Regions from separate parts of the Homo sapiens genome. Here region 1 is linked to region 2. The links come from fine-mapping of genetic effects on gene expression. Tissue or cell type: atrial appendage. Region 2 holds a variant in brackets; the other region holds the start of a gene. All regions are shown on one strand. Distances are from middle to middle.

Region 1 (2,604 bases), 140 kb before region 2:
TCAGGACACTTTGGATATAGACCCAACTGTCTCCTCAGATGGGGCCCCAGCAGCACCAGCACTGGGCCTGGCCCACAGTCACACAGCAGTATTGCCTCTGCAGGCTTGGTTCCCCACTGGCTTGAGTTTCGCAGGCACCCTAGATAAGGACCACAGCTTCCTTCCTATATCCACAGGGTGTCCAACGGTCACCAGGTTGGGGGCCCAGACCTCCTGTGCCCAAACCCTACTGTTTTCCCATCTTAACCAAGGTCCTGCCGTCCGGCAGGTCTATGCTGGGGGTTTTCTAGTCGTGGGCGGGCAGCTGAGCCCCCTCCTTCTACTCACCTGCTCCAGAGGGGGCCTCCTGGCTCCCCTTACCTCTCCTGAGCTTGAGGCCAATTAAACACTGGTCAGTAACAGGCACCCCCCTCCCCTCACCTCCCACACCATTCACAGGGCTGTAAGCCCCTCACCTGCATCAGCCACCTCTGCAGCAGCCGCACCCTTTGGTCTAGAGGGAGGAAGCCCCAGGATCCGCCCCTAGGGCTGAGCCCGGGGCTTCCCCGCGGCCTTAACCCCTTCAGTGCCGACCCCACCCACTGTGGGCGGGGCTCCGGGGTCCTCAGAGAGTGGCTTCTCCGTCTCTCCCGGGCCTCGGTTTCCCCCTCCCTCCTAGTGGGTCACAGGCTGTGGAGCTTTTGGGAATGAGGACTTCGAGAGCTCGACTCTGTGGGCAGGTGTGGCTCGGCATGGTCTGGAAACGAACGACTGACGCGGGGAGGGCGTGCAGGGTGGCATGGCCACTTGGGGACCGCACGCGCGGGGTGGACCTACAGGCAGCAAATGGGAAGGGTGCGGTACTGACATGTTGATGCTGGCCTCTGGGATGTTCCGCGTCCTAGCTCCGCACAGCTGGGTATCTCACTCAGTCGCCACCTCGGACTCCTCGGTCCGACAACGTTGGCCCCCAGCGGTGCGGCGGATGTTCTGCAGCCGTCGCGTCCTGCGGCACGCCACGGCGTTCTAAGGCCTCCCAGCACCCGCGCGTCGCCGCTTAGAACCCGCCCCTGGTTTGCGCGTCACAACACCCGCCAGGCGCCGACTCAGTCTCTACCCTGGCTCCGCCCCTGCTGAGCCCCACCCCATCTCCATTTGAGTCCGCCTCCTCCCCACCCGGCCCCATACAGGCCCCTCCTCCTTCTCCTTGCGTCACAGCTTAGGTCCCGCCTCGATTTGGCTTCTTCCAGGCCCTGCCCCAGCCCAGCACGTCACTTCAGCCAGGCGCAGGCCCCGCCTCCAGCTGGCTCTGCCTCCGCCAGCCCCGCCCCAGGCTCTGACAAGTCTAGCTTCGGTTCCCGCCGGCCTCCTGCCCCAGGACAGCTTGGAAACGGTCCGATCAGGTGGGGCTTCCTCTTGAAATTTGGGCCCCACCCTGGGAAGCAGCCGCCCTTAGACTGACGTCAGATCTGGTGAGAGTGACAAGCCTTTCCTGTGCCCTTTGGATACCGGGGCCTGGACATTTTAGGCGCTCAGTAAACAGCTAAGTAAATCATGACTGCTTTATTTGCTGGACTGGTGCCTCTCAGCAGATTCAGGGGTCGTGCAGGGCTGGTTACCACAAACTCAGTAGGAGTGCAAGGGCTGTACCCCCGGAGCTAGACAGCCTGGGTTTGAATCTCAACTTCTCCCTTTTCTTGCTGTGCAACCTTGGGCAACGTGCTTACTCTCAATGTGAGTGACTCAGTTTCCTCATAGCCTCATTGTGAGGAATGAATAAGTCCACATAAAACGCTTAGCACGGGGATTGGCAAAGAGTAGGCACTCAGTGAATGTCAGCCTTTGTGATTGCTGCAGTTCAAAGACTGGCTCAGTGTCTCTGGAGGAATTGTCTATGACCTTGCCAAGTAGATGCATATGGACATGGAATGAATGGTGTCTGCTGTGGTTCTAACTCCTTATGCCACTATTCCAGTCTGTAAGTATGCATGTGTGTGCAGGGAATATGCCTGTGACAGTGGCTGAGTGTACTCTTTACTGTGACCATGACTTGTATGACTGTGCATGTATTTGAGGAAGCCCTGGCCAGACCCAGAGTGCATTAGGTTCTCAATATGTGCAACTCAGTGTGTGGCCAATCACCACATGCTCTTCCGCTCACACCACGGTGCCTGCCAGCCAGGGTAGCATCGACATTTGAACTCCACAGCCATCTGTGCCTGATCTTCAAGTGAGAGGGCACCCCGCAGGCTCAGGGGCCCACCACCAGGCGTGAGCTGGATGGAGAAACTGGCAGGGTTAAGGAGGAGGAGGGCTTTGGGGTGGCTGGTGCGGCGGACACAGCGGCCATGGCCGGAGCACAGGGCTTGACTGCAGAGAAGGGCCCCACTGGTCACGTTCAGGATGAAGGGCCCCAGTGTAGTGTCCATATACTCCTTGATGGCCTGACATGATTCCTAGGTGGGAAGGGAGGATAGCGTCAGGGACACCATGGCCATGTATGGACCCACCCAGGGCACTGAGGCACTCACCTGCTGGTCAGCCAGGACTTTGCAGGTAGAAAGGGTAAGTCAGGGTCTACCCCGTCAGCTTAATGGCCCCACCCCTCCCCCACCCCCACCCTCA
Region 2 (2,753 bases):
GCCAGGTGCTCCAGCACCCCTGGCCTGAGCCCCGAGGCATGACTCCGGGGAGACTGGCGCTCCAATCCCCTCACCACATTTCACCACAGGGAGCAGCCAGGTGAAAGTCTTAACTGTCCATTAGGCCCCTGCAGGGAGGGCAGCCAGTGGATGAGAGACTGTGGGCGAGGCCTCCTGAGGCCCAACCCAAATAAACAAGCCCTGGGGAGGGAACCACCTCAAGAGGCCACAGGGTCTGCAGTTGGAGGCCGGGGTCAGCTGCCAGACTGGGCTACACTCATGTCAGGGATGTTGGGTGGGTGGCTAGGGGGCTTGTGGTGGCTCAGGAAGCCTGAGCTGGGCCAATGAGGTAGGGCGATTGGCGACAGGTAGTGACCAGTTCAAGGACCCTAGCCAGTCAGGGTAGAGCCAGGTCCGGGCCCCCTGCCTCACCCACCCCTTCTAGGCTGCTAACCTGGCCTTCTGCCTCAGTGAGAAAATAGAGGGTATTGACATAACTGCAAATCCACCTTGAAGACTGGAGAGTTGATGGGGTAACCAGGCACCTGGGGACCCTCTACCACTGACAGCACTTGGGACAGATCCAGGACAGGCTGCACCCCTCAGGGCTCTCCCTATAGCCTAGTTCTTGATGGGACTGAGGGGCTGCCCCATGATGGGTGCACAAAAACCCTAATCTGGCTGCTCTGGGGACACACCAGCCACGAGACTGGGTGTGTGACTGGCAGCTCCCCAGGAGGGGGCTAAGGCCTGTCCCTCACCAGCCTGGCACAGGGCTTACAGTAGGGCAAGGGGCCCCTGGAGCCCTCAGGGCACACTATCGGTGCCCAGGCAGGGGGGCTGCGTGCCACTCAGTTACATGCTTCATCAGCTGCTGACATTTTTGCCAACTGCCATGTTAGGTTCCTAAGTGGCCATGCCACACTGCCACCATCCCAGGCGGGGTGGCCCCATGGTCACTCAGCTGTATATGGTGTCCTGTCACACACAGGTTTTGTACACTGTGATGTTAGTTGTCCCATTAATAATTCCCCTTCATATCCAGTACAGAATGCCTGGGATGAACGCTCTCTTTAGAGGGCATCACAGACACAGAACCAGGCCATTACAATCAGCCTGCACGGGCTACAGTGGAGGTCACACAGCAGTGTGGGAGCAGAGAGGAGGGTGCCTGGCCTGGTCTCCTGGGTGGGCGGCCCATTAATAGCACTATCCTCCCCCACCCCCACCTCCTTACATCCCCCTGGAACAGCAGAGATGGAACAGACCTCGTCCCTGCCCTCCTGGGACTCTCTATCCAGAGGGGACAGATGCCCAGACAGGTGGCAGTAGACAGAGCTGTGCAGGAGACACTTGGGAGTGGGGCTGGCCTGCTCCAGGGTGGTAGGGGGCAAGAAAAAGCCTGGGGAGGGCTTTCCAGGGGAGAGGACATCTGAGCAGTCTGAAAGGCTGGGCAGGGGTTTTTGTGGGTGGACAGGGACGAGGGACGCTTGGCAGCAGTAGCGCCAGGTGCAAAGGCTGGGAGAAGCGGGGATAAGGGACTGCTCAGTGGCTGCAGAGGGGCTTGT[T/G]GGGGGACAGAAGCTGGGGAGACAGGGTGTGAGGGCAAGGGGAGCAGATACCCAGGTGGTGGGGACAGGGGGATCCTCCAGGAAGGAGGGACATGTGACTGACCACAAGGTGAGAAAGGCCTGGCGGCTCTGTGGTCCCTCGTCCTCAAGAGGCAACTTCTAGGAGCTTTCACCAGCAAGATTACCTTCACAAAACTCACAGGGGCCTGAAGCCCCCACCACCACCCCCAGCAACGCCTCCCTGTTTTTAAAGTTAAAGTTTAGTTGACTGTCATCCATTACCGCAATTAGTACATTATGTCTAATTATGCAATTAGTGTAAAAAGTGCACTTGCTGCTGAGAATGGGAAATTACGCTGCCTCGTTACGCTGTAAAATCCATGTCATAAAAAGGCTCAATCTCTTGTTTTTCAAAAGACACAAAACCCAACACAAAACAATAAACCAAATCCTCCCAGCCAAGCAAGGGCCAGTCTGTGCCAACCTCCCTGTGCTTGCCCCTGTGCAGAGCCTGCCTGTGAGGCCTGCCCTAAATGTGCCCCCAGGCAAGGCACCACCCACCAGAGACACTGGGCATGGCCCATTCCTGGGTGTAGCCCTTTGCTCCTCTGAAACATACGCGAATTTCCAAACTGACTTGAAAACTGTGGCAATCCTGATTATCCATTTACACCAGGCCTGACTTGAGGCCTCCAGTGTTAAGGCCTGTATCTCAGGGGAGAACAGTCCTAGAAGGAAATGGTATCCACCCAGCTCCAAAATGAGAGGTCCTTTCTCCAAGGTTCCTGATGGCTTCTGTGAACAGGGTTGCAGAATCCAGCTCGGAAGTGGGAGGAACTTTCCCACACTCAGGACTCCCAAAGCCTGAAAGCAACACCTGGATAAGTAGTGAGCCCCCCACCACAGGGACTATTCCAGCCCAGCTGTCAGGAATGCTGAGAAGGGACTCACCCATCATTAGCAAGCACCGTGGCTGGATTCCAGGCTGCCATCGTTAGATAACAGCATTCCTATGGCCGTGTGCCTATGTGAAGCTTGCAGTCTGTGACTTTATCTCCCCTAAATTCTGGCTCCCTTGGTGGTCACGAGGATGCTTTGGGGACAGGTTTGGAGTGAGAAAGAATCAAATGAGGTCTCCCTACTACAGAAGTGACAATCCCAAATGGCCCTGGGCAAGGGGGCTGG

Evidence for each region. PIP is the estimated chance that this variant, and not a neighbour inherited with it, causes the effect.
Region 1: it holds the start of NAA80, and the variant in region 2 is fine-mapped to the expression of NAA80 in atrial appendage (GTEx, PIP 0.94).

The regions. Positions count from the first base shown.
Region 1 is chr3:50,298,366-50,300,969 of GRCh38, forward strand. NAA80 (N-alpha-acetyltransferase 80, NatH catalytic subunit) reads right to left here and starts at 1,040. Exons shown (of 2, transcript NM_001200016.2): 1 at 848-1,040. It overlaps HYAL3 (hyaluronidase 3), which reads right to left and starts at 1,040. Exons shown (of 4, transcript NM_003549.4): 1 at 848-1,040. HYAL1 (hyaluronidase 1) reads right to left here. Exons shown (of 4, transcript NM_033159.4): 4 at 1,528-2,435. The coding sequence ends at 2,118. RefSeq lists an enhancer at 634-773.
Region 2 is chr3:50,439,488-50,442,240 of GRCh38, forward strand. All of the region lies in intron 2 of CACNA2D2 (calcium voltage-gated channel auxiliary subunit alpha2delta 2), which reads right to left. Among named protein-coding and RNA genes, the nearest start is that of CACNA2D2, 63 kb to the right of the region's middle. The variant T/G (reference allele first, on the strand shown) is at 1,569.